Linked DNA regions of Homo sapiens: regions 1, 2, 3 and 5 are each linked to region 4. The links come from fine-mapping of genetic effects on gene expression. A gene starts in region 4. Each other region holds a variant in brackets. All regions are shown on one strand. Distances are from middle to middle.

The links.
Region 1: its variant is fine-mapped to the expression of FAM177A1 in activated CD8 T cells (Schmiedel 2018, PIP 0.95).
Region 2: its variant is fine-mapped to the expression of FAM177A1 in whole blood (TOPMed, PIP 0.98).
Region 3: its variant is fine-mapped to the expression of FAM177A1 in whole blood (INTERVAL, PIP 0.93).
Region 5: its variant is fine-mapped to the expression of FAM177A1 in monocytes (BLUEPRINT, PIP 0.91).

What each region holds. Positions count from the first base shown.
Region 1 is chr14:35,093,354-35,098,457 of GRCh38, forward strand. PPP2R3C (protein phosphatase 2 regulatory subunit B''gamma) reads right to left here. Exons shown (of 13, transcript NM_017917.4): 8 at 3,356-3,411; 9 at 3,205-3,280; 10 at 1,695-1,831. The region is part of intron 1 of LOC101927178 (a long non-coding RNA gene); the gene reads left to right. Among named protein-coding and RNA genes, the nearest start is that of PRORP-PSMA6, 26 kb to the right of the region's middle. The variant A/C (reference allele first, on the strand shown) is at 2,328.
Region 2 is chr14:35,133,631-35,138,734 of GRCh38, forward strand. All of the region lies in intron 4 of PRORP (protein only RNase P catalytic subunit), which reads left to right. All of the region lies in intron 4 of PRORP-PSMA6 (PRORP-PSMA6 readthrough), which reads left to right. Among named protein-coding and RNA genes, the nearest start is that of PRORP, 14 kb to the left of the region's middle. The variant G/A (reference allele first, on the strand shown) is at 2,360.
Region 3 is chr14:34,714,950-34,720,051 of GRCh38, forward strand. No RefSeq gene overlaps it. Among named protein-coding and RNA genes, the nearest start is that of CFL2, 2.9 kb to the left of the region's middle. RefSeq lists a silencer at 1-80. The variant G/A (reference allele first, on the strand shown) is at 2,253.
Region 4 is chr14:35,043,792-35,048,895 of GRCh38, forward strand. It overlaps FAM177A1 (family with sequence similarity 177 member A1), which reads left to right and starts at 2,481. Exons shown (of 5, transcript NM_173607.5): 1 at 2,481-2,837. The coding sequence starts at 2,673. RefSeq lists enhancers at 2,001-2,200, 2,921-3,190, 3,291-3,350 and a silencer at 2,321-2,670.
Region 5 is chr14:34,947,701-34,952,804 of GRCh38, forward strand. All of the region lies in intron 2 of SRP54-AS1 (SRP54 antisense RNA 1), which reads right to left. Among named protein-coding and RNA genes, the nearest start is that of SRP54-AS1, 32 kb to the right of the region's middle. The variant A/AT (reference allele first, on the strand shown) is at 2,898.

The sequences.
Region 1 (5,104 bases), 50 kb after region 4:
CACTAAAGAGTTAAAGAATGCAGATTGTGATCTGACTTCATCCATAGTTGTAGCCTGATTTTCTCTATTCATCAGGAATCATTATATTAATAATATAAGCTCCTCACTGTCTATTGTTTACAGCTGTGGGAGTTACAAAGTAAATTTTCTGTGCCTTTTCCCCTCTTTTCTTTTGTTGTTACTAATGGTGTTATTTAGCAAACTGCTATTGAAGCTAAATGATAAATGTAAGACCCCCCCATTCTCATGACAATATGACTATTTTTTAAGCATAACTGGTTTGGGAAATTTATCAGATTCTTTTTTTTTTTGAGATGGAGTCTCGCTCAGTTGCCCAGGCTGGAGTGCAGTGGCGCCATCTCGGCTTACTGCAAGCTCCGCCTCCCGGGTTCACACCATTACACCATTCTGCCTCAGCCTCTGGAGTAGCTGGGACTACAGGTGCCCGTCACCGCACCCAGCTAATTTTTTGTATTTTTAGTAGAGACGGGGTTTCACCGTGTTAGCCAGGATGGTCTCCATCTCCTGACCTTGTGATCCACCCGCCTCGGCCTCCCAAAGTTATCAGATTCTTAACCCATGTTTTTAGCAGCAAAAATGGTGATTTTAAAATGCTGTTTAGAATTTTCCTTCTCAAGTATTTTGCATTGTTATAATAAAAAGACAAGTGCATGTTATCTTCAGCTGTTCATATAGCCACTTCTAGAGACTAATACAACCTGATTCTCAGAATTAAATCATGGCATATGTGTTACTACATTTGACCTGGTAATTTAATGACGGAACTATCTAGCTGAAAATAGCCAGAATAATTTACTAATGTTTCAGCTTTTAAGAGACATGGTCTCACTCTACTGCCCAGACTGGAGTGCAGTGGCCTCATCATAGCTCACTGCAGCCTCAAATTCCTCAGGTCAAGCAATCCTCCTGCCTCAGCCTCCCGAGTAGCTATACTACAGGCACATTCCATCCATGCCCAAGTAATTTTTTTATTTTTTGTAGAGACAGTCTCGCTGTATTGCTCAGGCTAGTTTTGAACGACTGGCCTTAAGTGGTTCTGTGGCCTTGGCCTCCCAAAGCGCTGGGATTATAACCATAAGCTACCAAGCCTGGCCTCAGCTTTTTTTTAAAAAAAAAAAAAAACTAGAATGCACTACTGTACAGTAGGTGCACTGACAATGAAATGAACAATAAGCTTTTCTATTTGCCCTGAGGCCATAATGCAGATGTTTTAATTTACGTTAAGACCAAAGACTCTGAATCTCAAGTAATTTGATCAGTTTACACATTTTAAAGACACTGTTACACAGTGATATCAATAATGCTGGGCCGAGTGTGGTGGCTCACGCCTCGTAATCCCAGCACTTTGGGAGGCAGATCACCTGAGGTCAGGAGTTCAAGACCAGCCTGGCCAACCTGGTGAAACCCCATCTCTCCTAAAAGTACAAAAATTAGCTGGATGCAGTGGCATGCACCCATAATCCCAGCTACTCCGGAGGCTGAGGCAGGAGAATCACTTGAACCTAGGAAGTGGAGGTTGCATTGAGCGGAGATCACACCACTGCACTCTAGCCTAGGCGACAGAGCAAGACTCTGTCTCAAAAAAAAAAGGGCTGTATTACATCAAGAAAAGGGTTTGTGGAAACTCTGGGAGCCTAAACTTTTAAAACTTAGCAGCAGATTTAAACTACTACCATTTCTCCATCATAAGTGAGACACTCCTGGAAAACACGGTCTAAGAAGACATTGGTCATGGTAGCTGTTCCATAGCGTGAGAGTTCTTCTTTACTGAGCATGCCATTGTGATCTTTATCAAGATTCAAGTACTGGCCTTGGGAAGAAAAATAATAAAGACACTTATGACCACAATAAAATTTTAATCAGAAGAATAGACTAACAAAAAGTTTTTTCTTGGTTAATATTTTGATTTTCAAACTATTCATGTTATGATTAGGGTAGTGGCCTATGTGTAATACTATCAGCTACCTTTGCAATCTTGATCAGAAAAACCCTTGGGCTAGAAACAGCCAAAAAAACCCATCATGAAGGCCATAGTCTCTGGGCTGTTTCACTTACATCATTATTTGTTTTCAGTTTGCAGTCTTTTTAAACATTCCTAGGTTTCTAAATTAAATGGAGGTAGAGGCCAACAAAAAGCACTGAAATGCTAGCACTTGAAAGTAGAGATAAGAATGCCAAAAGGAGGTCGGGCGTGGTGGCTCACGCCGGTAATCCCAGCACTTTGGGAGGCTGAGGAGGGCAGATCAGAGGTCAGGAGTTCCAGACCAGCCTGGCCAACATAGTGAAACACCGTCTCTACTAAAAAA[A/C]AAAACAAAAAAAAAAAACATTAGCCGGGTGTGGTGGCGAGCGCCTGTAATCCCAGGTACTTGGGAGGCTGAGGCAAGGAGAATCACTTGAACCTGGGAGGTGGAGGTTGCAGTGAGCCGAGATCATGCCACTGGACTCCAGCCCAGGTAACAGTGCAAGACTCTATCTCCAAAAAAAAAAAAAAAAAAAAAAGCCAAAGGAGTCAAAAGACCACCCAACAAGATAATGTAGATTAGCTCCATCAGTAGACCCTGGGAATAGCATTTTATCAACAAAGCATGACAATAGCTAATGTTCATAATGATGCTCCTGAGTCAACAAGGATCAAATTACATTCTGTTCTATTGAAAAGGAAGTGTATAACTTAAAAAGGGTTCTGCTGGGTGCAGTGCCTCATGCCTATAATCCCAACACTTTGGGAGGTCAGGGCAGGTGGACTGCTTGAGCCCAGGAGTTTGAAACCAGCCTGGGCAACACAGTGAGATCCCATCTCTAAAAAAACATAAAATAAATTAGCCAGGCATGGCGCCTGTAGACCCAGTACTGGGGGTGGTGGGGTGGGTGGGGTAGGGGCACTGAGGTGAGAGGATTGAGCCTAGGACTTCAAGGCTGCACTGAGCCGTGATCATGTCACTGCACTCCAGCCAGTGTGACAGAGTGAGACCCTGTCTTCAAAAAGAAAAGGTTGGGGGGAGTCCAAAAAGTTAAAACATCGGTATTTAAACAAGTAAATTTTGGTAATGTAGAATACTAAAGCTTAAGGTAATTAAATATTTTGATCTTAAGGTATATCAGTGTATGTATAAAACTGTCCTCTGAACACCAATTTCCTGAAGAATGGATAATTCAAATTTTAGCATTATGATAGGAACATACCATAAACTCTTAGGGCAGAAGGAGCAGAAAACCAATTTGTTTCTTGACTCTCCTTGGACAGTTCCTCATCCCTTAGCTAATGGAACACAAAGACATAATTAGAAGATAGCAACTGTCAAGTGATACAATTAAGTAGTTTAAAAACATTTACCTCCAATAAATCATCTAGGAAGCTGCATGCTAAAATATCTTGAATTTTTATCTTTCCTTTAAGAACATAAAGAAACACAATTAATTTCATTTTAAGAAAAGAGCAACTCAATTAATTAAAAAAAAATTTTTTTAACAAGAGCAATCACACAATTGATATTTTAAAGCTTCTAGCTCTTATGCTCCAAAGTCCTTATTACATATTGCTACAAAAAGGGAAATCTCGGCTGGGCGCGGTGGCTCACCGCGTAATTCCAGCACTTTGGGAAGCTGAGGCAGGTGGATCACCTGAGGTCAGGAGTTCCAGACCAGCCTGGCCAACATGGTGAAACCCCATCTCTACTAAAAACACAAAAAATTAGCTGGGTGTGGTGGAGGGCGCCTGTAATCCCAGCTACTCTGGAGGCTGAGGCAGGAGAATCGCTTGAACCTGGGAGGCAGAGGTTGCAGTGAGCTGAGATCAAGCCATTGTACTACAGCCTAGGGAACAAGAGCAAAACTCCATCCCCACCCTGCAAAAAAAAAAGAGAAACCTACAGGCAACATTTAATAACATCTCTACTTGTATACCTCAACTATATAAATCTAAGTGGTAAATTCTAAAATTATACTGATGTCAGATTTTCAAAAAAGTTGTGATTATAGATATAGTACTGCTGGTACACGAACAGGGACACTGTCTCCATTTATTTTTGGCAGGTTCTGGACTAGAAAGCAATACGCAGGTAAACAGGTGTGGTTTAAGAGCAGAGTTTGTTTTGTCTTGTTCTTGTTCTTTTTTTTTTTTTTTTTGAGACAGAGTTTCGCTCTTGTTGCCCAGGCTGGAGTGCAATGGTGTGATTTCAGCTCACTGCAATCTCTGCCTCCTGGGTTCAAGCGATTCTCCTGCCTCAGCCTCCTAAGTAGCTGGGAATACAGGCACCCACCACCACATCCAGCTAATTTTTTCTATTTTTAGTAGAGATGGGGTTTCACTATGTTGGCCAGGCTGGTCTTGAACACCTGACCTCAGATGATTCACCCATCTTAGCCTCCCAACGTGCTGGGATTACAGGTGTGAGCCACTGCGCCTGGCTGCTGCTGCTTTTTTGTACAGAAGAGGTCTGTCTTGCCAGGGCTGGTCTTGAACTCCTAGGCACCAGTGATTTCTCACCTCAGCCTCCCAAAGTGCTGGGATTACAGGTGTGAGCCACCACACCTAGCCCAGATTGGAGTTTGAATGCCACTTTTAAATATGTAACCTAGCAAAGTCTCAGTTGCCTTACACATAAAATGTGGACAATAATGTACCTTCCTTATGGGGTTATGAGATGAAAATGAATGAATCCATGTAAAATGCTTAGCATACTACATAAGTCAAAACGTGATATTATTTTGTAAAATTTGAAAAAGTATATATGTGTGTACTTATAGTAGAGGAGTTCAAAAAACACTGTCAGCTACCATATGCTGTGATTGGATTCATAACTGGATTTTTTTTTTTTTTTTTTGGACACAAGGTCTGGCTCTGTTGCCCAGACTGAAGTGCAGTGGCCCGATCTTGGCTCACTGCAGCCTCTGCCTCCTGGGTTCAAGTGATCCACTTCAGCAGCTTCCCAAGTAGCTGGGACTACAGCCGTGTGTCACTACGCCTGGCTAGTTTTTTTTTTTTTTTTTTTTTTTGAGACGGAATTTCCCTCTTGTTGCCCAGGCTGGAATGCAATAACGCGATCTCGGCTCACCTCTGCCTCCCGGGTTCAAGCAATTCTCC
Region 2 (5,104 bases), 90 kb after region 4:
TCCTTCCTGAGAAGGCTTTCCAGATACTTAAAAGGACTTGGGTGTTGTGATCTAAGTTGTATGTGCTTTAGGGGGCAGCCAAAGCCCAGTAATGCTGTGGTAAGAGGTACTGCCTTCATGGCCTTGAACAAGATCAGGGAGAATTCTCTGGATTACTAGGCAGAAGCTCTTGTTCTCTTCCCTTACTTTTTCCTAAACAAACAGTCTCTCCCTCTCATTCTGAGCCACCTGGAGCTGAGGACGTAGTCACACAAATACCCTTGTGGCCACCACCACTAGAACTGTGCTGGGCCAGACCTGAAGCCAGCAGAGCACTGGATCTTGCCCAAAGCCTGCTTAACTACTCCCTGGCTACTGTCTGTGTTCACTCAAGGCCCTGGGGCACTACAATCAGCAGTTGGTAAAGCCAGCCAGGCCTGTGTTCTTCCCTTCAGGGCGACAAGTTCCCCCAGGCCTCAGCAGGTCCAGAAGTGCCATTTGGGAGCCAGGGAGTAGAGTCAAAAATCTTAGAAGTCTACCTGGTGTTCTGTTGTATTGTGGCTGAGCTGGCATTCAAATGATAAGACACAGTTCTTCCCACTCTTCCCTCCCGTTTCCAAAAGCAGAGGAGCCCCACCGTGTGGCCACCGCCACCACCAGCCCACAGGGAGTTCTGCCAGGCTCCCACTGATGTTCTCATAAGGCCGAAAGGCTCTTCAGTCAGCTTGTGGTGCATGCTGCCTGGCCTGGGACTCACCCTTAGTGCTCTACCCACCTCTGGCTGAGGTGGTACCTGAAGCTAGCAATATCAGAGTCTCACTCAAGGCCCATGATGTACTACCTGGATATTGCTGCTGCTTATTCAGGGCCCAAGGGCTCTTCAGTTAGCAGGTGATGAATCCTTCCATGATTGGGTTCTTCCCTTCAAGGCAGTGAGTTCCCTTCTGGCTCAGAGTGTGTCTAGAAATGTCCAGGAGCTAGGGCCTAGAAAAGGGGGTGTCTCATGACTCTGACCGGTACCCCATCCTGCTGTAGCTGAGCTGGTGTCCAAGATGCAAGACAAAGTCCTCCCCACTCTTCCATCTCTTCTCAAGTAGAAGGAGTGGGTCTGTTTAGGAGACTGTGAGATGTGCGGCCTGGGCTTAGGGGAGGTATGGCACCAGTACTCCCCTAGCTATCGTCTCAGTAGGTCACATGCCCCTACCAGTCCACTGGCTCTGAGCCCAGTTCACCACTAGGACTCACCTAAGAGTTGCAATCCTTGTGGCTTAGACTGCCTTTCAAATTTATTTACGGGCCTGGAGCACTTTGGCCCATGGTGGTGAGGCTTGTGGGAACTCCAGTTTCAACCACTGGGATGGGCAATTTCCCTCTGGCTAGAGCTAGTTTAAATGCCCCTTCTGTGGGTGGGTATCAGCTGAGTTTGTTCTATTTTTGCTTTCTGCTATAACAGGGCAGCACTGAGTTCAATGCAGTGTCTCACAATTGCTGCACTCTCCCTCTCCCAAACACTCAGAGTCTTTCTCTGCACCACATTGCTGCTGCAGGGGGATGGGAGAGGAATGGCAGTGGTGATTCAAGACTGTTTTTCCTACCTCTTCAGTGCCTCTTTCAGTGATACAAAGTTAAAACCAGGTACTGTGAGTCCTCACCTGATTTTTGGTTCTTTTGAAGGTGCTTTTTTTACATGTGTAGATAGTTGTTAAATTGGTGTCCTTGCAAGTGGACGATCAGTGGAGCCTTTTATTCTGCCTTCTTGCTCCACCCCTTCTCCTCTGTCTATGGTACTTTTGTCCTGCAGAGTTGAGTAGATATAAAGGAGAACATGTGGCCTACAGAGCCTGAAATATTTACCATTTGGCCCTTAACAGAAAAAAATTGCTGATCCCTGGTATCAATGAATATCATAAACCTCTGGAGAAGTAATGAGTGTGAAGGAGCAGTGGCATCCAGGAGAGGGCCTCTCCTTTCTCATTGGTTGGTCCTATAGCATACTATAGGATAATGAGCAGCTATTATTAAGAAACATTGTCATAGGTTCTGGGGAGCCATTAACGTGTTTTAAGCAGGCCGGGCATAGTGGCTTATGCCTGTAATCCCAGCACTTTGGGTGGCCGAGGCGGGCAGATCATGAAGTCAGGAGTTTGAGACCAGCCTGGGCAATATGGGAAAACCCCGTCTCTACTAAAAATACAAAAATTAGCTGGTCGTGGTGGCGTGCACCTGTAGTCCCAGCTACTAAGGAGGCTGAGGCAGAAGAATCGCTGGAACCTGGGAGGCGGAGGTTGCAGTGAGCTGAGATCATGCCACTGCACTCCAGCCTGGGCGTCAGAGCAAGACTCTGTCTCAAAAAAAAAAAAAAAAAGTGTTTTAAGCAAAA[G/A]TATGATATGTATATTTTAGAGAGACCTCTCTGGCAGCTGGTTGGAAAAAGGAGTTGAAAAGGATAAGATTGAGGCACTGGAGTTGAGTCAGACGGCTGCTGAGTGGTCCAGGTGTGGGATGATGAGGGAAATGAAAGCCAGAATAAGGGTAGAGAAGGACCAGCTCAGCTTTGAGAACATTTTAGGAGATAAAAATTTCACCATTTGGTTTGGCTGCAGTGATGGGAGAAGACAGGATGATGTTCAGGTTTTCGGCTTGGGTGATGGGGTGAACAAACTCTCACTCCCTAATTCCTTTTCTTTTGTCACCCTGGAAAGATGCCATCTACCAAGAACAGGTATGAGGAGAAGATAATTGAATATCCGACAACGGGTTTTTTTGTTTTTTTGGTTTTTTTTTTGAAACAGAGTTTCGCTGTTGTTGCCCAGGCTGGAGTGCAATGGCGCAATCTCTGCTTACCGCAACCTCCGCCTCTCGGGTTTAAGCAATTCTCCTGTCTCAGCCGCCTGAGTAGCTGGGATTACAGGCATGCACCACCACACCCGGCTAATTTTGTATTTTTAGTAGAGACGGGGGTTTCTCCATATTGGTGAGGCTGGTCTCGAACTCCCAGCCTCAGGTGATCCACCCACCTCGGCCTCCCAAAGTGCTGGGATTACAGGTGTGAGCCACCGCACCTGGCCCATATTGGGTTTTAATGTCAGCAGAAGATCCAGGACTTGGGTTCCAGCTTACAGGGGAGAGTTAATGCTGGAGGTTTGGGGACCATCACATAATAGTAATAGGTTAAATGCGAAGAGTGCCTGAGCTCATCCAGGAAAACAGTGAGAACAGTAGTGGGCTCAATTCACAACTTGGTGGGGGTGGGATGGGGAACACCAGCATAGGAAGGAAGGTCAGAGAAGAAGTTTCATATATTAGATAGAACAGTCAGAACAAGGCAGAAAGAATCTATTCAGTACAGTGTCACAAATATCAAAACAGAGTGCAATACACTAGAGATTTGTTAAGGTGTGGACTGAAGGGATACATTGGATTTGGCAACTAAGAAATCATTGATGACCTTGGGAAGAACAGTTTCAGTAGTTTAATGGGGGCCAAATTCAGCCAGGTTATAGCAGCTGAGTGAATACCCATTGAGTGTAAACTCTAATTTTAAGAAGTTTACATGAAAATTAGAAAGATGATATAGTGGTGGCTAGAGGATGGTGGAGTCAAGGGAGGGTTTAGAGAGATAGGCTTGTGCCTGTTTGGAGGATGAAGAAAAGGTATCAATAGAGATAAAAAATATTGAGTATACAGGATATGTAGGAGAGAAAAAGGAATATTGCTGAGTAAAAGTAGCAGGGGTTGCCAAAAAGAGCACAAATGTGGAGGTTGGAAATGAAGGAAATATCATTTGAGGCTGTAGAAAAGAAAGTGAAGATGGGTGTGGATGATAAATTGGTAGAAAGAGGGAACATTGAGAGAAATGATACCTGCTGTGTTAAGTGGTATACAAGATGAGAGAGATGAGAGTCAAGTAGAGTACTAGAGAGAGTGGGGAAGGTTTGGAATGGTTCTTGAGGGGATGTCAAGATGCTAACTCAAGGCAGAAGGATTATGGCAGAGGGTGGGTGCTGAGGTTTGAATCTGTGAATCTGTAGACATTACTCTGTGTGATTGTGTGATTTAATATATTTCCAACAGAGCTTGGCTCACCAAGAGCAGAGGTAGTAAAGACAAAGGGTAGCGTTGGTCCAGAGTTTGGGTTTTGTTGGTTAGATGTGGCACATGATAGAGAGCAAGAGAAGGCGATTCTGACAAAGTAGTTAACATGGTCTGCATGGGGTCCAGGCCAGATAGGAAAGGGAGGAAGGCCAAAGAGCACTATATGAGAGGATTCCAGGGACTGGTTGTCTCTTCGTGCATGTACATGTGTGTGTTGGTTTTGTTTTGGTTGGTTGGTTGTTTTTTTTCCTCACCATTTGTATTAATTTGCTAAAGCTGCTATTGCAAATACCACAAACCAGGTGGCTTTAACAGCAGAAATTCATTTTCTCACCATTCTGGATTCTAGAAGTCCAAGATCAAGGTGTTGTCAGCTTTGGTTTCTCTTGATCCCTCTCTCTTTGGCTTGCCGATGGCTACCTTCTTGTGGTATCTTCACATGGCCTTCCTCTGGTGTATTCCTGGTATCATCTTTGTATGTACAAATTTCCTCTTATAAGGACACCCATCAGATTTGATTAGGGCCCATCCTTATGACCTTATTTTACCTTAATTACCTCTTTAAAGGCCTATCTCCAAATACAGTCACATTCTGAAATACTATGGGCTGAGACTTCAACATATGAATTTGGTGAGTGGACACAAGTCAGTCCGTAATACCGTTCATTGTAAATATGCGTTAATAAAACTATATTATATTCAGCATTTTAAATTATTTTGTGTTAGGAACATTAGAAACATCTAGTTGACAAATAGCTGGATCTGCCTTCAATGTTGCTTTCTAAAGCTTGCTTATAATTTGAGAATATGAGGTATAAACCAAGGAATAATTATTAAAGGAATAAATTATTAAATAATTATTAAATTATTAAATCTACTTAAAAAAATTTTGCCAACTGACCTCCATAAACACCTAAAATGAGCATTATAAAAGTTATTTTAGGCTTATATGTTTTCCCCAAATAGTACTGTTGTTCAAAACAAAGTAAATTAGATGACACCCTCTAATGTAGCGGCTTTCAACTGTGGCTGC
Region 3 (5,102 bases), 330 kb before region 4:
TTCCACCGCCTCCGTAGGGCCCTGCGCCAGGGGTGGGTGCGTGTGAGGGGAACTCCTGCGAAGGTGTCTTTCCTTATTTACCTGTGGTTTTCCCGAAAGAGGCTGGATTTCGACATTTTGAGTCTTTTTGGAAAACCCCCAGTTGTTTAGAGATAAATGAGAATAAATACTACACGAGATTGCTCCAGTTGATAGTACTTAGCAAAAACAAAATGATACGCAGTGTTGGTAAATCACTTTTCAAAACTCTGGTTGAAATAATAATTATGATTAAAAAATTACGTGGTAGCATTCCTTAGTAATATCCTTTTACATTTTAGACTTCATAGGAAATGGATTGTACTCTCTCTTAGAGATTTCATGAAGCTCCAGCTATGACAGCTGATATCAAATAAGCCGACGCAGCCTCTTCTAGCAAAGCCCATATAACTGCGCCAAGGCAGTTTCTCTTTTTTTAATCTTAACTCCTCCATACCTCAGGGTTCTTCATGTGTAAAACAAACTGTTATTAAATTATCGTTAAGGCCCTTTCCAGCTTTAGATTTCAGTTTCTGAGTATATCAATGTTCAGTAGGAAATGGTGTGTTTTTGGTGGTCTCAGGATTGAGGTTAGGCAGGAAAGTCATGAGATGGTGTTTGCCCTAGATTGCGTGATAAGTTCTTTCAGCCCAAATTTACTGTATTTTAAATGGAACATGCTAGGCATTGAAACAGACCTATTTTTCTGTCTATATCTTGGGTTTGTTTTCTTAATTGGAAGATAGACTTCGTTTAGAGACAAAAATTGAGAAGGGATTTCCCAATGTCTAAGCATGAATCCCAAGCAAGTGGATAATACTTTATATCTAGCTGGTACATTACAATTTATGGAACCTTTCACTTTATCTGTTGAACTTCCAAGAAGTCATGGAGAATGTCTCTCCAGAGCTCTGATCATCTGCTATGTGTAGGTATTAGCAAATTCCTGTTCGCTTCATCTTGCGGTTACCTTCCCTTCCCAACCTCAGAGATTTGCAGCAGCCCCAGCAGAGACCAGGTCTGATGACACTGGGGCCTAAAGTGGGTGTCAGAACCTTACCCACCAAAGCTGGGGATTCCAAAGATGCTAGTCACCCCCTAGCTCGGACTCCAACCCCTTTCCATGCCTCCCATTCTCTCTTACCCTCCCCAAACAGAGATGGTAATTCACATGTTCTAAGATTCTTTTCCTGAAGTTATTTTTGTCTTGCATATATTTTGTTACATTATAATAACTTGTTTATGTCTTCTGCCACCCTACTGCGCTGTAAGCTCCTTAAGGATCTGAGTCCTGGTTATCTTTGAATTTCTGGAACCTGACAGATAGTAGGTGCTTAATAGGTGCTGAAATAATACATTTAAGATGCTTTAGTGCTGTAAAGAGAATGAAAAGGAAGCTTCTGAAAATTGTGAAGCCTTTCTACATGCCCTTGTGAGCATGGCACTGAGAATGTCAGGGCCAGTAGCAGCTTCCTGCCTTCACCTCTGTGAGTTATAACCAGAACTTACCACCACTTGGTAAAGGGGCAGCATTGCCAATCATTGCTGCATGAATTTTGGTCACTGTGTAGTGGAGGGGGATCTGAGTGTCAGATACCACATGTATTAGCGTTCGACTGTTGCTATAACAAATTACCATAAAATTACTTGTTTAAAACAACACAAATTTATTATTTATGGTCTTACAGAGTCAGAGAAACAAGTCTCTCTCTCTATATATATATATTTAAGAGATAGTCTCTGGTTCTGTTGCCCACCCAGGTTGCTGGAGTGCAGGATGTGATCATAGCTCACTGCAGCCTCATACTCCTGGCCTCAAGTGAGCCTCCTGCCTCAGCCTCCCGAGTAGTTGGGATTACAGGCATGAACCACCACAACTAGCAGAAATAAGCCTGATGGGGCTAAAGTCAAGAGACTGTAGTGGGAGACTCCTTTGCCTTTTCCAACATCTAGAGGCTGCCCATCATTTTTTTTTTTTTTTTTTGAGATGGAGTCTCACTCTGTCACCCAGGCTGGAGTGCAGTGGTGCTATCTCGGCTCACTGCAAACTCCGCCTCCTGGGTTCACACCATTCTCCTGCCTTAGCCTCCTGAGTAGCTGGGACTACAGGCACCCGCCACCATGCCCGGCTAATTTTTTGTATTTTTAGTAGAGATGGGGTTTCACCGTGTTAGCGAGGATGGTCTTGATCTCCTGACCTTGTGATCCGCCCACCTTGGCCTCCCAAAGTGCTG[G/A]GATTACAGGTGCGAGCCACCACACTCGACCTGCCCATCATCTTTGGCCTGTGGCCCCAGGCAGCAGTCGCATCACTCTGACCTCTGCCTCAGTCATCACATTTCCTCTGACTCTCTCTCTCCTGCCTCCGTCTTCCACTTATAAGGACCATTATGGTTACTTTGGACCCCACTTGGTAGTTTAGGATAATTCCCCCTCTCAAGATCCTTAACTTAATCACATCTGCAAAGTCTGTTTTTTCGTACAAGTTAACATTCAAAGACTTTGGAGGTTAGGACAGGAACACCTTTGTGAGGAGGGGTTGCATTATTCTGCCTACCATACAACTGTTCTGAGCAATTTCAAGCTCAAGCAAACAATTAATAGGTGTGACAGAGGGACCCCGAACAATGTGGTACTAGATACTTTTGTGCTGTAAACATCTAAGCTATAATTATCCATTTACTAGACCACACATAGATGGCAGTGACAACTATTAGGAACTTAGTGAGAGTAACCTCTGAATGTAATCTCAGCTCAGACACTAGTAGCGGTGCAATTTCAGGCCATTGATTTAGCTGCCATAAGGCTCAGTTTCCAAATCATGTGTAAAATAGGGATTATATGACCTCTTCCCTCTCAGGATTATGGGGAGGATCAAGAGAGATAATGTATGTAAAGCCCTTGTCCAGCACAGAAATAGGAACCCTGGAGCTGTTATTACCACCAGCAGAGTGAAGATGAAGGCACTGATTTTATCAACTCATAGGCAATAGCGTGAAGCCGTCCCAATCCTCATTGATTCTGAAGACTCAGCTAAAGTTTGTTTACTCAGGATTCTTTAAAAAATTGGAAAGGTGATCATCCCTTAATATATATAATCTATTCCCCCAAGAAACAATCTATTATGTATATATTTACTTACTCACTTACAGAGATGGGGGTCTTACTATGTTGCCCAGGCTGGTCTCAACTTCTGGGCTCAAGCAGTCCTCCCGCCTTGGCCTCCTAAAGTGCTGGAATTACAGGCATGAGCCACCACACCTGAGAAACAATGTGGATGGAGGTTCTGTGGCATGTAAAAGTTTGAAAGAACTATCTAAAACAGTGAATCTGGAAGATTATGCAGACAAACTGTGTGTAAGCCCTACTCCCTGTCAAGAGACATCACATTCTCAGCTCCCACAGCCACTTCCTGACAAAGACAAATGTAAGCATAAAGACACTACCACTTCAAAATGTACCTTTCTACCGACATGCCTTCCTAACTCTGACATATCCTTCCTAACCCACGCCTGAGCTAAAGGACTGATGAGGGGCCGGGCGCAGTGGCTCACGCCTGTAATCCCAGCACTTTGGGAGGCTGAGGCGGGCGGATCATGAGGTCAGGAGATCGAGACCATCCTGGCTAACACGGTGAAACCCCGTCTCTACTAAAAATACAAAAAGTTAGCCGGGCGTGGTGGCGGGCGCCTGTAGTCCCAGCTACTCAGGAGGCTGAGGCAGGAGAATGGCGTGAACCCGGGAGGTGGAGCTTGCAGTGAGCCGAGATTGCACCACTGCACTCCAGCCTGGGCGACAAGTGAGACTCATCTCAAAAAAAAAAAAAAAAAAGACTGATGAGGAGTCAAGTCGTATATTTTTCTAAATCCAAGTTTGAATTTAGAACTAGAAAATAAATACAGTAGGAGGTGTTTTTTTGGAGTCTGATCTCTGTGACTCACTCTCATCCACAAACTCACTTTGGGTCTTACATATGCCATCTCTGGTTCTTTCTAATTTAGGAGAATGACCTCACAATAAAGGAATTTATCAGTAATCTGTGTCACATGAAGTGGTAATGAAGAGGTAGCAGTATTGAAATGCAATAATTAGTGAAATGTAGTTCAAAATGGTCTCAAACTATAATTACCAACTTCAATGGTGTAAAACATACCAGCTTCAACTTATTAACTCAGACACAATTTATCAGATTCACCCGCCAGTTATTTGTAAAACCTCAATCACAATGTTAATTAATAATGCATTGATAGTAATTGAATTGTGATAGTAAATAGCAACTGGTTACCTAAATTATACAAACCATATAAAACGTCATCTGAGAAAAGAAACTTGCTAGTAATTTATTAAACACTCCTTTGTTTAACTTACTTTATTACAAAAGCAGTAGATTTTGGCCGGGCGTGATGGCTCATGCCTGTTATCCTAGCACTTTGGGAGACCAAGGTGGGTGGATTGCTTGAGCTCAGGAGTTCAAGACCAGCCTGGGCAACACGGTGAGACCCCATCTCTACAAAAAATAAAAAAAATCAGGCGGGTGTAGTGGCACATGCCTATAGTTCCAGCTACTTGGGAGGGCTGAGGCAGGAGGATGGCTTGAACCCAGGAGGTGGAGGCTACAGTGAGCTGAGACTGAGCCACTGCACTCCAGCCTGGGCGACAGAGTGAGACTTTCTTAAAAAAACAAAACAAAACAAAACACAGTAGATTTTATTTTTGTTTTTATTTTTTAAATTTACTTATTTATTTATTTGAGACAGGGTCTCACCATCATCCAGGCTGGAGTGCAGTGGCACGATCATGGCTCACTGCAGGCTTGACCTCCCTGGGCTTAGGTGATGCTCCCACCTCAGTCTCCTGAGTAGCTGGGACTACAGGCATGTGCTACTACGCCCAGCTAATTTTCATATTTTTTGTAGAGATGAAGTCTCCCTATGTTGCCTAGGCTGGTCTTGAACTCCTGGGCTCAACAGATCCTCCTGCCTCAGCCTCCCCAAGTGCTTGGATTACAGGCATGAGCCACTACACCTAGCCAAAAGCTGTAGATTTTAAAACCATAGGCTAATCATACAGACATGAAAAATGTAACA
Region 4 (5,104 bases):
AAATTTTATTCAGATTTATTTTCCCAGCCTTACGCAGAAATGGTTCAATCCAAATTTACCTTTTTAGCTCTATATGTATCATTAAATGATAAATTTAGACCACATTATGTTTTCAAGTAGATAAATTATCATAATACTTGAATTTATTTTTGTCATAGTGCTACGATACAATTTATGTTACAAAGTGAAAGAAGGAAAAATTTGGCACATTGCCTTGGTGCCTACTTTTGGTTGAGCTATAACAGTTTGGAAATAATGACAAAAATATAAATGTCCAAAATAAAACCATTAGAATTTCTATGCTTTTATGTTGCTTTGAGTTGTTGATTTGTTTTGTTTTTGTTTTTTTGAGACGGAGTCTCGCTCTGTCGCCCAGGCTGGAGTGCAGTGGCGCGGTCTCGGCTCACTGCAAGCTCCGCCTCCCGGGTTCACGCCATTCTCCTGCCCCAGCCTCCCGAGTAGCTGGGACTACAGGCGCCCGCCACCACGCCCGGCTAATTTTTTGTATTTTATAGTAGAGACGGGGTTTCACCGTGTTAGCCAGGATGGTCTCGATCTCCTGACCTCGTGATCCACCCGCCTCCGCCTCCCAAAGTGCTGGGATTACAGGCGTGAGCCACCGTGCCCAGCCCGAGTTGTTGATTTGTAATAAACTGCTCTTCAATTGGATATTTGTGTTAAAAATAACTTTTTAGGAAATACTTCCAGTTCACGTTAGAATGTAACTTGTACTTTGAATTTTCAGTAAACTAAGAAATACACATGTAAACTGTGAAAATATATTCTGCTTCGGCAATGAAAATTGTAATTTGAGGCCAGGCGTGGTGGCTCACGCCTGTAATCCCAGCACTTTGGGAGGCTGAGGTGGGTGGATCATCTGAGGTCGGAAGTTCGATACTAGCCTGGCCAACATGGTGAAACCCCGTCTCTACTAACAATACAAAAATTAGCCGGGCGTGGTAGTGCACAACTGTAATCCCAGCTACTTGGCAGGCTGAGGTGGGGGAATCGCTTGAACCCGGGAGGCGGATGTTGCAGTGCGCCAAGATTGCGCCATTGCACTCCAGCGTGGGTGAGACCCCATCTCAAAAAAAAAAAAAAAGAAAAAAAAGAAAAAGAAAATTGTAATTTGATATTTAATTGCCACTTTGGAAAATAAAATCATGCATTTATAAATATCCCACAAAGTTTTAGTAATAAAGATTGTTGATTGCCCTGCTTGCCAGTAAGAAGGAAGAGATTTTGAATACATATAATGCAGAACTGTGTTGTTTATGAATGCCAATTCATGAAGTCTTAACAATTGGTTCTTTATTTTTGTTTTCAATTTATGGCCGAGTTTGGTTTTGCTGTTTTGGACTGTCTCAACTCCCTGCTGATGCCACCATACAGAGTCAGATCAGGTACTAACTTGTTTACTTCAGCAGCAACCTAACTTGATTTTATTACCAGGATAGAGAGCAATATGGATTTCCAACTAGTTTTTAAGGCGTAGATGGTTTTCAAATGATTATTTGTTTTTTAAAGTTTTTGGTTTTGTTTTTAGGTTCCAGTTATACATAGAATAGGAAGTGTACAATAACATTAGGCAGAGGGTAAGGAGAAGAACTTTGGCACAGAAGAGAAAGGAATATTTAATATTTGGGCCTGCTGTTGCTATGATGAAAAACATTTACAAGGTCATACAACTTTAGGGAGCATTTCTGAATTGAGACTAGTATGAAAATGGAATTTAAAGTATCAAATGAAGCCTCCCATAGCCAAAATAATGTATGTTTTGGTTTTGCCCCCTACATATTTGTGAAAACTTTCATGCTAAAACAACAATATACCATTTACCTGCAGAACCTCAGACTTGTTTGATGTTGAAGTCATGCAGTAATTGCATGATTTTTTACTTTCGTTGAACATTGCGAAAGACGGAAAAAATCTGGGACGCCCCCTCTAACATACGCACACGACTTTAAGACACAGATAAAACATTCCTTACATTTGTCAAGATGGAAGCTTACTACTGCCCTTTGCTCTCCTTCAGGTCTTTTCACTTAACACTTTCTACAGTTATACTTAAGTATTTCAGACAAGAGTAAGCAAATATCACGCCTGGGGTTCTTCTTTCGAGGGTATTTTGGCTGGACTGTCACCCACGTTTGGAATGGAAAGTGCAGCACGAGCCGTACATTTTACATTTTTCAGCAACCACATCCCATCACTAGCCTTTGAAGTACAACGACACAGCTGTCTTCATTTTACAAGTGCAAAAACCGAGGTCCTGCGGGGTGACTGCCCCAGACGCCGCTGGTGACGGGCTGCGCCGAGGTCGAGACGCCAGGCTTCAGGTACACGTACCAGAAATGACGTCACAGGCGGTGCCAGGCGGGGATCCACGAGCTCTGGATGCTTGCTTGGCCGGAAGCGACGCCCCGCAAGGACCCGCCCCGCCCCGCCCCGCCCCGCGCGAGCCGGTAGTTGCGCCTCCCAGACTGCAGTTGGCCAGCTCTCGGGGTGCGGAGCCCGGCGGGCTAGGCGAGGCGCGGGCTGGCCCCGCCCCTCAGGCCGGCGAGTCCCCTTCTCAGAGACTTGGCTAGGCGCGGCGCGAGGCGGGCGCTGGGCGGGTGAGTCCCACTTCCCGACAGCCTGGCTCGGCCAGCGACTGGGCGGGGAGACCAAGGATGGAAGTGGGCTTACCGGCCATTACCCTCTTTCTCACCAGCGCCAGCAGCCCTGTGGTGGCGACGACGATGGACCAGGAGCCAGTGGGCGGTGTGGAACGAGGAGAAGCCGTCGCAGCCTCGGGAGCTGCGGCCGCCGCGGCATTCGGGGAATCTGCAGGGCAGGTAGGTGGGGCCGCCGAGGCTGACGTCCGGGGAGCCGAGCCGCCTCCTTGCCTTCTCCGCGGGCCGCTCTTTTAGCCTGCGCGGCCGTCCTCCGAGCAGGCCGCCCCAGCTTTGGAGTTCCTCCTCACTGCACCCCTGTTTCTGCTCACTGAGACCAGCTTGTGGGAAGGAGCGCCCCCCGCCTCACTCACCAACCCCTTGGCTGGCAGCACAGCAGACTCTGGGGCGGCCTCGGGTTCCTGGGGTGATAGTCCAGCTTCTGGTCTACCAGAGGAAGAAGAAAGGCGTGTCCCCCAAAGGCTGTCCTTGCAGTAGCTGGAAGCCAGGTGAGGGCGGCTTCAACCACTTCTCAGTCTCTTCTGGTGCGAGCGCCTGCCTGGGCATCTGCCCTTTGCTTGGCATATGCCAAACGTTTACCAGCTTTAATTCACTGGATCCTTACAGTAACCGCTCGAGGTGGGTGTTAGCCCCATTTCACCGCCGAGGCAACTAAGGCTCCGAGCTGCGCTGTCCAACATAAATAGAATGCAAGCTGCATTGAAAATTGTAATTTAAAATTTTCCAGTAGGCACGTTTTAAAAAAGTGAAACCGATATTAATTTTAATAGCATATCTTATTTAACCTAATTTATCAAAACAATTTCAACCTAAAATTACTATGAAAGTTATTAATGAAGTATTTGCATTCTCTTTTGGAGTCTTTTCTAAGTCTTTTAAATCCTGGGTGCATTTTACACGCATAGCATATCGCAGTTCTGGCTGACCACATTTCAAGTGCGCATTAGCCACATGTGGCTAGTGGTTACTGTATTGGACAGCGCTGGTTTAGAGAGTTAACGTTTCTTGCAACTTTTCAGTATTAGACAAAAAGACACTTTGGGAGGCCAAGGCGGGTGGATCACCTGAGGTCAGGAGTTCAAGACCAGTCTGGCCAACATGGTGAAACCCCTTCTCTACTAAAAATACAAAAATTAGCTGGGCGTGGTGGCGCTCGCCTGTAGTCCCAGCTACTCGGGAGGCTGAGGCAGGAGAATTGCTTGAACCCTGGAGGTGGAGGTTGCAGTGAGCCGAGATCACGCCACTGCACTCCAGGCTGGAGACAGAGCGAGACTCCGTCTCAAAACAGCAACAACAACAACAACAACAACAACAACAAAAAAAAAACCCTTGAGTTGCTCATGTATGTAACTCTTCCCATCCTCCATGAGAATGAAGCTTTTTCAGTAGCTTCATTTTTGAGACTAAGTACCTGAATGTTAGTAAGACATTTCCCCCAAACTGTGAGTATATCTCTGTGTATCTCTTATAGTATAAGATGTCGTTTGCATTAACAAAAGCTTATCCAGCCTGGGCAACAGAGCAAGAACCCATCTCTTAAATAAAAAACTAAAGAAACCCCAAAAACAAAAAACACAACTTTCCCACATACCAAACTCTATATGGAATACGTTTTTTCCCTCCTACTTAAGAAGGGGATTCAGGGGACAACATGAATTGATAAGGAAGCCACGTCATTTTCAGTTGAGTTGAGACCTATTGTTGGCAAGTGCACTTACACTTAACCTTTGAGTCCATGGTGCTTGATATGTTTTTCAATTTGATTTTTCCTGTTGTTACTAGAATTGTTTTTTTAAAATCACTACCTCCGCCCTGGATCTAATAGCAAAGTAAACACACGTGTACTTATATACCAGCTAAATGTTGTTTGAAGTGAGAGGCTCTTTGATTGGGGTTAGTGATATTCTGTTGTTTTCACATTCTTGGTTAACAAATAAGTACTTAACCAGTAAAGAAGGCTGTAGAACAAAAGATAAAAATTCACAGGAATACCCCACCACCACCCTTTCTTCATGTTCTCATTCCCCAAAGGTAACTATTAAGTTTTGGTGTAGTCTCTCTGGAATTTTATCATTCAATATTATATATTTCTTATATATTATATATATTATTAAATATTAAATATCTCTTCTTTCTTGTTAAACACCAATGAGTTCCATTTTCTGATTTGCCCTTTGTGCTTTCAGATTCACATTCCTGAATCAGAAACATCTTTGGGAACTCCAGTTCTATGCCCAGGGGGTTGAGCACAGTAACAGGGAAGTGGACATCTCAGGAGATGGAGAGGCCTCTATCTTACACTTCTTCCCAAGTTTGGCAGAACTGAGAAATCCCTAGTGCAATGTAGGGAAAGGGAGTAAGAGATAGGAGATAGGGTCTAGAATTAGGCCTCCAAACAGGCCATCCAGTACCTGTTGTGACATTCTTTT
Region 5 (5,104 bases), 96 kb before region 4:
TTTCTCCTCAGTCTACGTAATTACATTTTCACTAATCCATAATCTATATTTAATTTATTCCTAAAAGGTTATATTGGGCATTTTTTCCTCATCTCCCTCAAAGAAAGTAGAAATTTGAGAATACCAATTAGTGTTAGAGAACTTAACAGCTGGATGATCATTGTTGTTGGCAAAGAGCAACTTGAAGTTGAATGCTCTTCGAAATGAGGATCCTTGATACAAATACGATTACTTTATCTATCTATGTGGTTGGGACATTTCTTCTGATAAACAGATCAGTTCCAATTTGTATTCTATTTATGTGCATTTCCATATGTGTGTCTGAAGGACTGTTTATCATTCTCGATGTACATAATACTCTTGTGAAATTCATGGTCAGAAAAGATGAATTAACTTATTTTACAAGTGGATAAAACGGCAGCCTAAAGTGGTTGAGTTGCTTAAAGCATTAAGCAATACCCCAGGTTCCAAGGCCTGCCTAAACAACACTGTATCTAAGGAAAAAGTTACTTTTAAAGTAGGTATCTGGGCAGGCATGGTGGCTTAGGCCTGTAATCCCAGCACTTTAGGAAGCTGAGGCAGGTGGATCATTTGAACCCAGGAGCTTGAGATGAGCCTGGAAAACATGGTGAAACCGTCTCTACCAAAAAATACAAAAATTAGCTGGGTGTGGTGGTGGGTGCCTATAGTCCCAACTACTTGGGAGGCTGAGGTGGGAGGGTCACCTGAGCCTGAAAGGTTGAGGCCACAGTGAGCTGAGATCATGCCACTGCACTCCAGCCTGGGTGACAGAGTGAGACCATGTCTTAAAAAAAAAAAAAAAAAAATTAAGCCAGGAGTGGTGCCTCATACTTGTAATCTCAGCATTTTGGGAGGCAAAGGCAGGTGGATTGCTGGAGCTCAGGAGTTTGAGACCAGCCTGGGCAATATGGTGAAACCCTGTCCCTACAAAAAATTAGCCAGGCATGGTGGTGCACAGCTGTAGTCCCAAGTACTTGGGGGACTGAGGTGGAAAGACTGCTTGGGCCTGGGAGGTTGAGGCTGCAATGAGTTGAGATCACACCACTGCACTCCATCCTAGGAGACAAAGCTAGACCCTGTCTCAAAAAAAAATTAAAAATAAAGTACGTATCTTTTACTATACTAGCATGTCGCCAGTGAAACCCTTATGTTTGTCTTCTTTTCCGCAGCAAGATTCTTTTTTTTGAGATGGACTTTCGCTCTTGTTGCCCAGGCTGGCGTGCAATGGCACGATCTCGGCTCACTGCAACCTCTGCCTTCTGGGTTCAAGTGATTCCCCTGCCTCCGCTTCCTGAGTAGCTGGGATTACATCCATGTGCCATCACACCTGGCTAATTTTGTATTTTTATTAGAGACGGGGTTTCTTCGTGTCAGTCAGGCTGGTCTAGAACTCCCAACCTTAGGTGATCCACCCACTTTGGCCTCCCAAAGTGCTGGGATTACAAGCATGAGCCACAGCACCCAGCTCCCCAGCTAGATTCTTATTTACAATGTTTAGAACTTTATTTTATGCCCTACCCTAATCCTTGTCTTCAATGCAGTTATCCTTGTGTATCTTATATGTGTGTTTCACCCTTGGCAGGTTCCCATTCAAGCTATTGTTTTAATGTTTGCCTCCTGGCATTCTTTTTTGGCCATGTACTTAGTATTTAACTATTTTTTATTTTGTTAGCGTATGATTCCATGCAGCAGATTTCTTGCTATTATCTTTTGACTTAATGGATTTGCTGTAATGCCTCACTGATTTTCTCAAATCTCTTCGTAAATGTAATTATTAAAACTACTCACTTCCAGATTTATCTACTCCCCACAAAGTGCTAGGCCCTCCTAAATACTTCATGATTCCTTCTTTCTCCCTTCATTCCCAGTGTTGATGCCTTAGTTCATTACTACTGGGTTTGCTGGACCACTCCAGTGGCTGACTTATTTTCTTTGCTGTTGTTTTGCCCTTTTATTTTGTTTTTGAGACAGAATCTTGCTCTTGTCGCACAGGCTGGAGTGCAATGGCACGATCTCGGCTCACTGCAACCTCTGCCTCCCGGGTTCAAGCAATTCTTCTGCCTCAAGCCTCCTGAGTAGCTGAGATTACAGGTGCCCGTCACCATGCCCGGCTGGTCCAGAACTCCTGACCTTGTGATCTGCACTCCTTGGCCTCCCAAAGTGCTGGGATTACAGGTGTGAGCCACCACACCCGACCATGTTTTACCCTTTTAATCCATCCTAAATAACGTCTTCAGAATTACGTTTCTATACTTTTATTCTGACTGTATCAGTATGCTAATGCATCTTGGAATGGCTCCCCCTTTCAGAATACAATGTGATCTCCTTTGTTTGCGACACCATGTCCTTCCCGATCTGGCATTCGTCTACTTTACCAACCTCATGTAATCCTAGCCTGGACCCTGGTCATACTAAAATACTCTCCTCTATGCCCCCGCATATGGCATTCCCTCTACCAGCGACATCTTTCCTTACCCTGTATCTAAATGAAAGAAGCGCCTCTCTCCTTAGACTGTGAGTTCCTTCAGAGTGGACCCAAGTGTTCCATGTTTGTATCCAGAGTCTGGCAGAGTGCTGGATAAACAGTGGACGCTTAGTACATGTTTGTAAAATTAGTGCAATTAATAGTTGAATGGCTGTGGAATTCACCATCAACAAAAAATACCTTATAATGTCTACTAATGATGAAGTTTTCATCAAATTTTGGAATGTTTAAGCTGTTGTATCCCAAAATGGGACGAGGCTGGGACATCTGGGGCATCTGCATTACTAGACAGCACTGGAGGTTGGGTGAGGGAATAAGGTGACAAAAAAAATGAAGAAGCTGTATGAAGTTAATTTTCAAAATTATTTTTATTTTATTTACTTTTGTTTTT[A/AT]TTTTTTTTTTTGAGACAGAGTCTTGCACTTTCGCCCAGGCTGGAGTGCAGTGGCGTGATCTCAGCTCACTGCAAGCTCCACCTCCTGGGTTCATGCCATTCTCCTGCCTCAGCCTCCCGAGTAGCTGGGACTACAGGCGCCCGCCACCACGCCCGGCTAATTTTCTGTATTTTTAGTAGAGACGGGGTTTCACCGTGTTAGCCAGGATGGTCTCGATCTCCTGACCCCGTGGATCCGCCCGCCTCGGCCTCCCAAAGTGCTGGGATTACAGGTGTGAGTCACAGCGCCTGGCCGGTTTTTTTTTTTTTTTGAGACAGAGTTTCAGTCTGTCACCCAGGCTGGAGTGCAGTGGCGTAATCTCAGCTCACTGCAACCTCTGCCTCCCGGGTTCAAGCGATTCTCGCGCTTCAGCCTCCTGAGTAGCTGGGTCTACAGGTGCGTGCCACTATGCCCAGCTAATTTTTTGTATTTTTAGTAGAGATGGGGTTTCACTATGTTGGCCACACAGGTCTTGACCTCCTGGCCCCAAGTGATCTGTCTTGGCTTTCCAAAGTGCTGGGATTACAGCCATGAACCACTGCACCCAGCCCTGTATGAAGTTTAATAATTTAAAAAAATCATTGGCTGAAAAAAGTTCCAGAGTTCTAATACGTTTATTTTCTATCAATTTAATTTTTATCAAATCAATGTAAAATGGTAAAGAGCTAAATAATTAGGACATTTACTGTAATCTTAATGTTTTTGTTTGAGTACCAGCAATGCTATATGAAAAACTGGTTTTGTTTTGTGTATTTTTCATTTGGCTGATGAAATATGAAACTATCTTAACTCTATTTTTCTCCTTCCCCACAAACCTTCTGAGATGCATTGCATAACACTGGAGGATAGAGAGGGAGGTTGAGGTCAAGCTAAGGAATGACAAATTGTGGGAAGTATAAAGCTTCCAACACTAAAAATTCTCCTAAAGTAAGAAACTAGCATTTTTTTTTTTTTTTTTGAGACACAGTCTCACTCTATTGCCCAGGTTGGAGTGCAGTGGTGCAGCTTCCTGGGCTTAAGTGATCCTCCCACCTCAGCCTCCCACGTAGCTGGGACTACAGGCATGCACCACCACACTCCTGGTCAGGAGTTCGAGACCAGCCTGGCCAACATGGTGAAACCCCATCTCTACTAAAAATCCAAAAAAATCAGCTGGGTGTGGTGACGCACACCTGTAGTCCCAGCTACTAAGGAGGCTGAGGCAGGAGAATCGCTTGTACCCGGGAGGTTGAGGTTACAGTGAGCCAAGATTACGCTACTGCACTCCAGCATGGGCTACAGAGGGAGACCTCATGCCACACGCACAAATAATAATAATAAAAATAAATAAAATAAAATGACAGTTAGTTGTCTCTAGGCAAATATATAGACATTTAAAAACTAAGTTGAATAACTCCACATACAGAATATTGAAGGTGGTGGTAGTAATGTCTCCTTGGTATCCTACAGTTTGAATATTTACCTCATATTTATTAAAAAATGTGTTAAGCATATAAAGTGATCTCCACTTAGCCATGGTTTTTCTTTCCGTAGTTTCAATTACCTGTGGTCAACTGTAATCTGAAAACAGCACACAAAAATTTCCGGAAATAAAAAACTCCTAGGTTTTAAACTGCATGCCATTCTGAGTAGCATGATGAAATTTCACGCCATCTTGCTCTGTATCCCAGAAGTGAATTATCTCTTTATCCAGGGGATCCACACTTGTCTCCACTACCCACCTGTTAGTCACTTAGTAGCGTCTTCTTTGTCAGATCAAGCCCTTTGTCTCCTTATCGAAGGGCTGGTGGTAAAGTAAGGCTTATTTCTCGTTCTTTTTTGTTTGTTTTTTAAATTTTCTTTTTTTTTAATTTTCATTTTTTTGTTTGCTTTTCAAGTAATGCTTATTTTACTTAAGAATGGCCCCAAAGCACAGAGTAGTGATGCTGGCAAGTTAGATATGCCAGAGAAGCCATGAAGTGCTTCCTTGATTTGGGGGCCGAGGCAGGTGGATCACCTGAAGTCAGGACAGAGTGAGACCCCTGAAGTCAGGAGTTCGAGACCAGTCTGGCCAACATGGTGAAACCCCATCTCTACTAAAAATACAAAAATTAGCCAGGCATGGTGGCGGCACGCCTGTAATTCCAGTTACTCGGAAGGCTAAGGCAGGAGAATTGCTTGAATCTGG